Regions from separate parts of the Homo sapiens genome. Here region 2 is linked to region 1. Evidence: fine-mapped expression QTL. A gene starts in region 1. The other region holds a variant in brackets. All regions are shown on one strand. Distances are from middle to middle.

What was found. PIP is the estimated chance that this variant, and not a neighbour inherited with it, causes the effect.
Region 2: its variant is the best candidate, but not a certain one, in a credible set for the expression of CEP152 in whole blood (TOPMed, PIP 0.67).

The regions. Positions count from the first base shown.
Region 1 is chr15:48,808,490-48,813,872 of GRCh38, reverse strand. CEP152 (centrosomal protein 152) reads left to right here and starts at 2,804. Exons shown (of 27, transcript NM_001194998.2): 1 at 2,804-2,912. LOC124903487 (a long non-coding RNA gene) reads right to left here and starts at 3,175. Exons shown (of 2, transcript XR_007064626.1): 1 at 3,066-3,175; 2 at 1,964-2,942. RefSeq lists enhancers at 2,375-2,434, 3,093-3,654 and a silencer at 2,610-2,800.
Region 2 is chr15:48,738,077-48,743,459 of GRCh38, reverse strand. CEP152 (centrosomal protein 152) reads left to right here. Exons shown (of 27, transcript NM_001194998.2): 25 at 1,360-1,513; 26 at 1,756-1,859; 27 at 4,172-5,383. The coding sequence ends at 5,211. Among named protein-coding and RNA genes, the nearest start is that of CEP152, 70 kb to the left of the region's middle. The variant T/C (reference allele first, on the strand shown) is at 2,529.

The sequences.
Region 1 (5,383 bases):
TCTTCTTACTCTAAGTTCTGTGTTCCTTTGAAGATAGTACTCCTTGATGATAGCACTTTGGATAGCACTCCTGTGATGACATTGCTTTGACCTGATAGCTTTGACACCAAAAAGGAGGAAAAAGGAGAAATAATGGTTTAGCTTTACCTTTATAAATGCTTGTTAGTGGGAGGGACCCCATCTCATCAACAATGTGACATTTTCTCTTGAAATGTCTCACCCAGCTCATAGGTGTGCCCATTTAAAACATGCAAGGTAAACATCGAGCCAACGTTTCACAAATAATCTTTTGTCCAGCATTTGAGATCTTTGGCAGTTTTACTTTCTTCTCCCACACTTGCCTTTCTTATCCCAGAATGCCTCTGTCTGCTTGTGTTTCTTTGGATGTTAGATTCATTCCTTGTGCACACCATTACCTGACCTCTGTAGAATGCCCTTCCTATTCTCCCAGGCTTAAAGCTCTTCTATGGACCACCTCCTTCCTGCCTTCTTCTCCAGACTTACATCTAAATGTAAGATTCCTGCACTTTTGCTGGTCTGGCCTTTAAATTGCACTCATGCTAATCAACTGACCTGTTGAGCTCTCTCCTTCTCTTCTTCCTTGAACCTGCCTTGATAGATTCATCTTTAGGTGTTCACTTTCCCTAGAATTATTGCCTATTCTACTCTTATTACACTTAGTAAACAATTTTTATTATTATTTATCTTTCTACGTAAGCATCTTGTAACTCAGAGTGTTGGTACCTTGAGCATAGGGGTCCTACCCTGCACCTAGGCCAGGACTTAAACAGGATAGGTGGTCAAAGAAATTTAGTTGAATATATCCATAACTCCACCAAAAACCATTTTTAGAGGCATGGCAGGATGGGAGGTTGATTTATTCTTTATTTTCCCTCTTTGTCACGTATATGCTAGTCTCACTAAAATATTTTGTATGTAGTGATGAGCTCTGGGTTTGGAGATAAAGGACCTGGTTTCAGATTCTGTCTGCCTTGTATTAGCTGTGTAGCCTTGGACAAGTCATTTAATTTATTTTTATGTAAGTTTCTTCAACTGGAAAATGGGTAGGAATACCTGTCCTAACCCCCCACAGTGTTGTAGTGAGAACCAAATGAGATGATGCTTGTGAAAGAATTTACCAATCTGTAAAGCACTGTGTAATGGATTATAAACACTGCCTCCTCATGTGCTTACCCTGACACGTTTTATGCTTTCATCCTTCTAAGAAGCAGTTGTTTGTGCATGGGGATCACCTGGCATTCTTGCTGCAGCACTCCATCATAACCCTCAGCACAGAATGCAACATACAGTTTGCCAATCGACTTCAGTGGGATGTGAAAAGTGAAAAGTGCATTTAATTCTCACTAAGATGCCTTGGCTCAGATTCAACAAATGCCATTTACTTGAAGGCCTTTTATTTGCTTTTTCTGCCTGCCCCCCTGCCAAAATCTTCATCTATTTGTTCATTTATTCATTTACTCATTTAACATAATTGTTTTGAGTGCCTACCAGGGTCATGTTAGACACCCAAGAAGTAAAGTGAGTACTTCAAGATATTCACGTTGTACTGAGTGTAAGACACACAAAAACTTACAGTAGATAAAAGAACTATAATAGGATATATAGGATACACTGTGTACAGAGGTAGGAAAGATCATTTTTGCGAAGTGAGGGAGTGTGTGTCATGAAAGGCTTCAAAGGAGGTGCTAGTCTGTCTTCAAAACTAAGTAGCAGGAGAAGGTAGAGGCGATGCAGGTGAAAGAAACAGCTTTCACAGCAGGTGAAAGAAAAAAAGCGCTCTGGGAACCATTGTTAGCTCAGGCTGTGATTTCGTTCATTCTATTACAGTGGGTTAAATTACCTGTTGTTTGCCAAACCCTATACCAGTTTATGGGGTTACAGGGGTCAGTGTAGGCATCATGGGGGCGGACGGTGAAGTAGCAAAGGAAAACCAGCCACAGTATGAAGAGCCTCGAACAACCATTTTACTCCGTGCCAGTACACATGGGAAAGGGTTGAAAGGATATGTGAACCTGCCGCCACCAATTCCTTGATTATTCACTGGAACCCTTTCAGCCAGAGAAGATAGACACAGTACTGGGCTTTACTGAGGACTGGGTGGCGCTGTCTTTAGGGGCAGGTTAATAATATACACCTAAGTGACAAGAACACTCACACCCGAGGAAATTAGAGTAGTAAATAGACACGTGGAAAAATGTGCCATCTTATCAGTAATTAAAGAAGCAAAAATGTAAACAAAGCGGCACCTAGTAAGGTAGAAGACAAAGCAAAATATCTAAGGCTGTTAAATAATGGGGAAGCAGGCGCCTTAGAAAACAAGGGCAAATGTAAAAAACCTCTAAGGCAAGAGTTCGGTGGGGAATCTGCGGGATTCTGTGTGCTGAAGCGCAGGAGGCACGAGTCACCTTTGCAGTCTCCGGTACCAAACGGGCAAGGGGTCCCCGTAAGACTGCTGCACCCTGGCCGAAGGTAGCGGGTGAAGCGCCTCGGCGTCTCTAGGCAACCGATCAGCCCGCCCACTCCGGGGTGACTTCCTCGTAATTGGCTCTCGAATCCACCAATGGGCGCACAGGGGGAGCTTCCCGCCACCTCTGGCGCCCGCTTTCAAACAGCCGTACTTTGCAACTGCAGGTGGACTTCTCAACCAAGCTTGAGGAAGGCGGAGACTTCTGCCTCCTCGCTCTGCCCTGAGCTGGCACGGCTCCGCCCACCGGGCGAGCTTCTAGTCGGCGATTGAAGGATGCGAGTGCTCCTTAAGGGCCTCCGCCCCGTGAGTTCGGTTGTGACTAGGAAGGAGCTAGTGGACTAGAGCCAGGGTAAGGGGATCTGCTAGAAGTTGGTCTTCCGCCAGGACTAGAGTTTCCTCGCGGTAACAGCCTCCGTGGCCTCCGGTAAGTTCTGATTCACGGGTGAGCTTGGACCTGGGGTTAGAGGAGTTGCGGGGTCCTCGGGATGCTGGCTGAGGGTTCCTGGGGGGGCTGACCTGCCCCCTCCCCAAATCCCGCGGTGGTGGACTGCCCGCATGTTGCGGGCTCAGCTTTTACCTTAACGTGTCATTTAGACCTCTTCATTCCTCCAATATCCTACTTAGAAGTGACATATGGGAAGCCCGCCTCGTTTCCAGGCTGCTGGGGTCGCCCTGAGACCCTACTCTGCGGACCCCGCCTTGGTCACCCTGGCGTCACGCCTGGCTCACAGTAGGTGCTCTGTGCACGTGTGTTGACCGAGTACAAGTGACGCTGGCACCCGAAGCCAGTAGCCCCGGGCATCCTGGGCCCCGTGCGGCTTTGGTCATGTTTGTAGTGCCGTAGCTGACGCCAAACAGTTCCTCAAGGTCATTCGCTCAGCCTGTGGATGCTTATTGTGTATTAGCATTACTCGCTCCGCCCTCTGGGCAACTTGAATCAATTTGTCCAAAGTGCTGTTATTAGCACTGATCACAAGATGTTGTGATCATTTGTTTATATGTCTATTTTCTTTCCCTTCATCGTGTCCTGTTAAACTTTGTAATCTTGAACAGTGCTTGGTAAATTGTCGAATGAATGAATAAGGTGTCTCCACCAGGTGTTGCAAGTCTAAACCGGGCTATGTGCTCTGGCTATTTCCATTCTAGAAGGCGAGTTATGTCAGCAAGTAAGTAGAATTTCCCAACTCCAAGTGCAGTTCTTAGAAACCCCTTTTGTGGGGGTTTATAACCCTTCCTATATCGTAGTCATGAACTTGAGTCTGATTTAAGCCTATTATCACCTTATACCTTCATAGTGCGTGACAATGAACATGCACTCCCTAGACAGGTGAATGCACTCAACTAAAGAGAAGCTGAAGTTGAAGCCATAAGAAAAGCATAAGAAATACAGTCTGAAAGTGCAAAGGAGTGGCCAGCTCCATGGGGGAACAGGCTTGGGAGGGCATCTTGAAGGAGGGTGGCATTTTTGTTCCATAGGAGGTTGCATTATTAGAAGTGACATTTCTCATAGGCTGCACATTCACCTTTTCTCAGATATGCGGAATCCTCTTTATTCCCTAAACCTCTTCGGTAGCTGGCAGACTCCTATTCATCAGTAATAATGTCATAATAGTAATAAAACTACAATGTATTGATTGGTACATAGTGCTAATTACTTTACATGTAGTATCTTGTGAATCCTCAGAATCAATCTTTGAAGTAGGTATTATTTTTACCCCCATTTCTTTAACGTAGAAGCAGAAACAGTTTGCTCAAGATTGCACTGCTGATAAATAGAAGAGCCAGAATTGAGCCCAGGTTGTCTGAATGAGTGCCCTCATTCTTAGAACCACTTATAGCCATATTGTGTCCTTTAAGATTTATTTCTAATCTAAAAGCTCTTTTTTTTCTGTAAAACTTCTCTAAACTATCCTTTCTTCTTAGGAAAAGTAATTTGTGCTTTGTACTTTCATCTACTACGGAATTTATTACAATATGTTATTGTAACTGTTTATATCAGTGGCTCTATCTAAGAGAGGGTGAGCAGAGACAGTGAGCTCCTCATGGCTGGTACCATGTCTTAGGTGCATCTAGGATATGATCTGGAACACAGTGGGTATTCAATAAAATTTTATTGAAGTAATGAATTCGTATAAGGTAACATGCCTATATCATATTCAGTCAACAAATATTTGTTATGTACCCACCATGTGCAAGCAGGCAGATACATTTTAATTCTGCCTTCAGGGTGCTTATAGTTTATTAGATGAAGCAAAAACAATGCTACTTTTGCTTTGTAATCTTTTGTCCAAATACCCATTGCTTTTGTTGCAAGGAGGGCAGAGAAAACAACCGGGGACAACAAAAGGAATGCTGGGTCAGAGCATCCATCTGAGTGTAACAACAAGACATACTTTTTATAGTCTTGTTAAGGGTTCAGAAAAAGTTATCTAGGAAGAAAGTCTACCAGACTGCTATTGAAGAAGAAAACCAAAACATACTGTATACTTAATCTGCATCTTGATTTCTCAAGTGGTCAGCCTTGAGTCAATAGATATAGAAAATTTTCAGTATTTTTACTAGTGGCATAGTATTGACAAATTAATTCAAAATAATTTTACTAGTGTAAATGTTAATTTTCAATATATTAATATTGATAGTTTTCAAGATGGTTTAGCAGTTGATATTTTCACCAGCAACTCATGAGCCATACAAAATACAAAATAGTCACCACTGGGTGATAACAAGTTTTTTTTTTGTTTGTTTGTTTTTTCAATCTAGTGGTTGAAAATGGCATATTGTTTAAATGACACTTCTTTGAAACATCACGAGCTTAAGCATCTTTTCAAACTAATTGATTTACACTTTTTAAAATAAATTGTCATGTCAGTCGCCCAATTTTATATTGGATTGTCT
Region 2 (5,383 bases), 70 kb after region 1:
AGCATATCCTGTAGAGCATTCTCCTGATGTGTGTTTTCCCTGTTTTGAATACTTCTTGGTTTCTAATTCTAATATGCATAGAATGGATATATGTCCCAAAACAATAAGTAGTGTTTATATAGGAAAAATGTATATTAACTTCCTAAAATTACATTTCTTTTTAACAAAAAGAGCAGGAAAAGTCTGAAGTTTCAAATATAATTGGTAGATTCAGAATCACGTGTAGATGTTCTACAAAGCTCATTCGGTATTTATAAGGGAATTTGCTTCTCCGTTGTTACTGGTGCTAATAAAGGGCATATTGCTACAAGCAACGCAACTTTTTGTTAATAATGTATTAATTGGGAAGTGGAATTTTAAGCATGTTTTCATCCTAATGTGATAACTTGTATGTATGTGTGTATATTATGTTTTAGTTATTTTTTAGAAAGTTGGTTGGAGGTTTTGTTTTGACATGTACTGCATTTCATTTTCCATTTCAAATAATGAAAAACAGTCTCCCAGTTAGTATTTTTGCATAGAACCACTAATTTTCAGATGCTTACTGACATTAACAGGAAGATTCCTGTATGAATTGGTATCCTTAATATAACAGAGATGGTGAAATTCTAGATGTAGGATGTAGTCTTGGATTTATTAAAAAAAAAAATAAAAGTTAGCCTTAGCTAATAGTAGTCCTAATCAAAGATATATTGAGTTAAAAAAAAAAACTTGAAAGCTGTGGGCTATGTTTATATGTAAATTTCAGAGGCCAACTATAAGTCCCATCACCCTCCTTGTAGTCTCATTTTGTACATATCTCTTATGAATTGTAATATTATATTTAGTTAGATGCTCAAAAAGTGCTGCTGAAAGAATTTTCAATAAATAATGGAACGTAAATTTTCAGAGCACTAGAGAAGAATGAGTCTCTCCAGCTCATACTGCCTCCTTTTCTTCTGTCTTTGTGTTTGCTTTTTCCTTTCTTTCTGCTTAACCTTTTCTCTATATTTTATTTTTCTCTTTTCCTAACTGGACATAATGTACAATTGAAATACTAAGTTTCTGTACCTCATATTTACAGTATTTTCTTCGCTAAGTGTTTTAGAATATGACAAAATTTAGCTGGGGAATATGCCATGTTTCCTTACTATATGTAGCTGTCATCATTCCGAAAGAACTTATAGAGTACTTCTCATTTGAGTCTACCAAAATGATGATCTAAAATATTCCATTTTAATGACTGTGGAAAGTATAATGTTTAAACTATACTTAAAATCACTTCATCTACCAGAAAATTGATCTGAAGTCTGCCCCTCCTGTTTCTGAAAAAGTGCTAATAAACATACATTCTGTGGGCATTTTCTCACTTCCCTATAGGTGACATGCTTCGTTATATTCAGGAGAGTAAGGAACGAGCTGCAGAAATGGTAAAAGCAGAGGTACTGCGAGAACGTCAAGAAACCGCCCGAAAGATGCGCAAATATTATTTGATTTGCCTCCAACAGATTTTGCAGGATGATGGAAAAGAAGGGTGAGTTCAGTCTGAACAATGTGTCCTGAGATTACCAGGACAACATGTTATCATTTTTAAAGCATTTTCCTTAACCACTAAATTAACTATTTCTACATGATCAGCCATAGGGGGTTAAGAGAGGTTTATGGCTGTGCTACCCTAAATGTTGGCAGAGCCAATAGGAAAACAGAAACCATGGGGCTAAGGCAACTCATTTTTTCCTTTAAACTATATTTTTAATATTCTGGAATTCCCCACAGGGCTGAGAAAAAGATTATGAATGCTGCTAGCAAACTTGCTACAATGGCAAAATTACTGGAAACACCTATTTCTAGTAAGTCCCAAAGCAAAACTACACAGTCAGGTATGTCAAAGTGAGTCGCCAAATGGTTTTTCTATCTTTTCTTCTTTAGCTATTTAATATTTTCAGTATGAAGAAGGCAGGGAAGGTAAGGAGTGAGAGTTAATTTGTGAAGTTTTGTATGTTTTACTTAAACTAGAAGTTTACGCAAAAAGAGTACACAGTTTCCAATTTAAGTAGGCAGACTGAGCATGCCCATCAGTTTCCTATTGCTGCTTCCATCCCTCGAAATGATAGAAAAGATTTTAAACAGCAAATAAAGAATGAGAAAAAGAAGAAATTATAAGTGGGTTTTAAAAAGTTGCAGTGGGCCAGGCATCATGGCTCACACCTGTAATCCCAGCACTTTGGGAGGCTGAGGTGGGAGGATCCCTTGATCCCAGGAATTTGAGGTTGCAGTAAGCTATGATTGTGCCACTGTACTCCAGCCTGGGTGACAGAGTGAGGCCCTGTCTCAAAAAAAAAAAAAAAAAGTTTGCAGTGGATAGACCAGAAGCTACAAGAAATCCCTGAGAGAAAGAAGACAGTATAGGATGGAAGATGGAAACCTCAGTTCAAAACCACCGGGAGATGACTATTGCAATTAGGAGCAATATCAAAACTGTTCCACATATGAGGGTGATATGTTCCAGGAGAAATAGAGGGCCTAGGGGATATGAATGGGGTAATTAG[T/C]TGGTGTTCTAAACCAACAGCAACCAGGTGGGGTTAATCCTCTCTTTATTTCTTCTTCTCCCCTCCTTTCCCCAACCTCAATATTGAGCTGGGCAACAACAACAGGAACAAAGAATCTGGGAGCAGGGCAGTGCTCCAGGTGGCTAGCCATATCAAGCAGGAACTGGGAGCCGACTTGCCTTGGGAGGCTGAGATGGGAGGATCACTTGAGTCCGGGAGGTCAAGGCTGCAGTGAGCTGTGATCGCACCACTGCACTCCAGCCTGGGAAACAGAGCAGACCCTGTCTCAAAAAAAAAAAAAAAAAAAAAAAAAAAAGTAAGAGTAACCAACAAAAACATAGAACGTATAACTTTAAAACTGGTAAAGGAAAAACTTGGAAAAAAACATTTTCAATCTAACAAAATCAGGAAAGAGGAAAAAAACCTAGAGAGCGTGGGTAAGTAGGACATAATAGTAGTTTGAAACATCAACAATCACACTAAATATAAGTAGGTTAAACTCATATAAGTTATTAAAAGACCACAACTTTCAAATAGGGTTTTTAAAAATGTGGAAATTTGCTATTTTTACAAGAAGAACATCTAAAATTAAAAATCAGGGGATGGAGAATGATATACCAAGCAAATGCAGTGTTGATATTAGATAAATTATAGAGGTAAATAAAAGATTAGATAAATTAGAGTTAGCATTAAAAGGGACAAAGCTGATAGTTCATAATGATAATGGAATAGTCTCCCAAGAAACTGTAATTGTTTTCTTTCTGTAGATCATACAGCTTTATATAAAGCAAGAGCTGATAGAAATACATGAAAAAGACTGGTAAATTCCCAATCACACTGAGAGATTTTTAACATATCAGTGGGGAAATGGGGTTCTTGAACCTCTGGAAAACTTGAAGCTGAGATTGTTCAGGGGTCCATGAGTCTGATGTTGGTAAACATTCCTCATGTACAAGCCAAAGATTATTTGTATAAATTTTGGAATGGTGATGTGAACCTTAGGTATGAAAAGGCAGTAACATATAACAAGAAAATAATTTTCTAGATCTGGGGCAACAGTGTGCAAATAATGTCCCCAGTAGAGAAGCAAATCCTTTTCATGGACTCTAGGGCTTGCTACTCTGAGATACAATGCCTCTAATTTCATGCTATGTGGCTGCTTTGTCTTTGATCAGATTTAGTGTCTTAGGTAATTAAATCAGAAAGTCTATTTAGCTATTCTAGAAGTGTATGTGTAGGTATTGGGTGGGTGGGGTTCTTTGAGCGAACTTGTCAGAAACTCCATTCTTAACATCAGAATCAGGGCAGGATTGAAAACATTGTGGCTGGATCTTGAAATTGCTATAACATCTATTGCAGAAAATGATAGGTCAGATGGATAGCAATAATAATTATATATCAGATCTTAGTAACAAAATTACCAAGCTTTATCTAGTGGATATATGTAAAAGAATATTTTTAAATGTCCAGCATTGATGTATTTTCTTTAAGAATTATTACAGTATATAAGCATTCTTTGGGAATACAGTATAAAAACATAAATTTTTTCTTATTTTTAATTTTTTTTATTTTTTTGTTCAAGGATGAATCTTCCCTTTAAATATTAATTTTCTCTTAATTTCGTGTTTCCTTGCACATAATAGCACTGCCCCTAACTTCAGAGATGCTGATTGCAGTTAAAAAATCAAAAAGAAATGATGTGAATCAGAAAATACCATGTTGTATTGAAAGCAAATCAAATAGTGTAAACACCATCACCAGAACTCTGTGCGAACAAGCTCCCAAGAGGAGGGCAGCTTGTAACTTACAAAGGCTGTTAGAGAACTCAGAGCATCAGAGCATAAAGCATGTGGGATCCAAAGAGACACATTTGGAATTCCAGTTTGGGGATGGTAGTTGCAAGCACCTAAACAGTTTGCCAAGGAATGTTTCTCCTGAGTTTGTTCCTTGTGAAGGTGAAGGAGGCTTTGGTTTGCACAAGAAGAAAGACCTACTCAGTGATAATGGTTCTGAATCACTTCCGCATTCAGCTGCATACCCCTTTCTTGGAACCTTAGGAAATAAACCCTCACCTAGATGTACCCCTGGTCCTTCTGAATCAGGATGCATGCATATAACCTTTCGCGATTCTAATGAAAGACTTGGTTTAAAAGTATATAAATGCAATCCACTAATGGAAAGTGAAAATGCTGCATCTGAGAAAAGTCAAGGTTTGGATGTTCAGGAACCTCCAGTAAAAGATGGAGGGGACCTTAGTGACTGCTTGGGCTGGCCTTCCAGCAGTGCAACCTTATCCTTTGACAGTCGTGAAGCATCATTTGTACATGGTAGGCCACAAGGAACTTTGGAAATACCAAGTGAATCTGTTAAATCCAAACAGTTTTCACCATCCGGTTATCTTTCAGATACAGAGGAAAGTAATATGATTTGTCAAACAATGAAATGTCAGCGTTATCAAACTCCATACCTGTCAGAAGAAACCACGTATTTGGAGCCAGGAAAGATCAGTGTGAATTGTGGACACCCATCTCGTCATAAGGCTGATAGATTAAAGTCAGATTTCAAAAAACTGAGCAGTACATTACCATCTTCAGTGTGTCAGCAGCCTTCAAGAAAATTAATTGTTCCGCTATCTAGCCAACAAGATAGTGGCTTTGATAGCCCATTTGTTAATCTAGACTAATTATGGTACAGTATTTAAGAAGAATCATTAATATATTAACAAAAATGGAAGGGAAGACCTCATACTGAAAAAAATTGTGAGCCCTGCCTCTTTTGAGATGTTTTAATAACATCTGTTATATAAGTAAAGCATTCTTCTAAAATTGCTTGAGATATTTATGTTGCCTTAATAT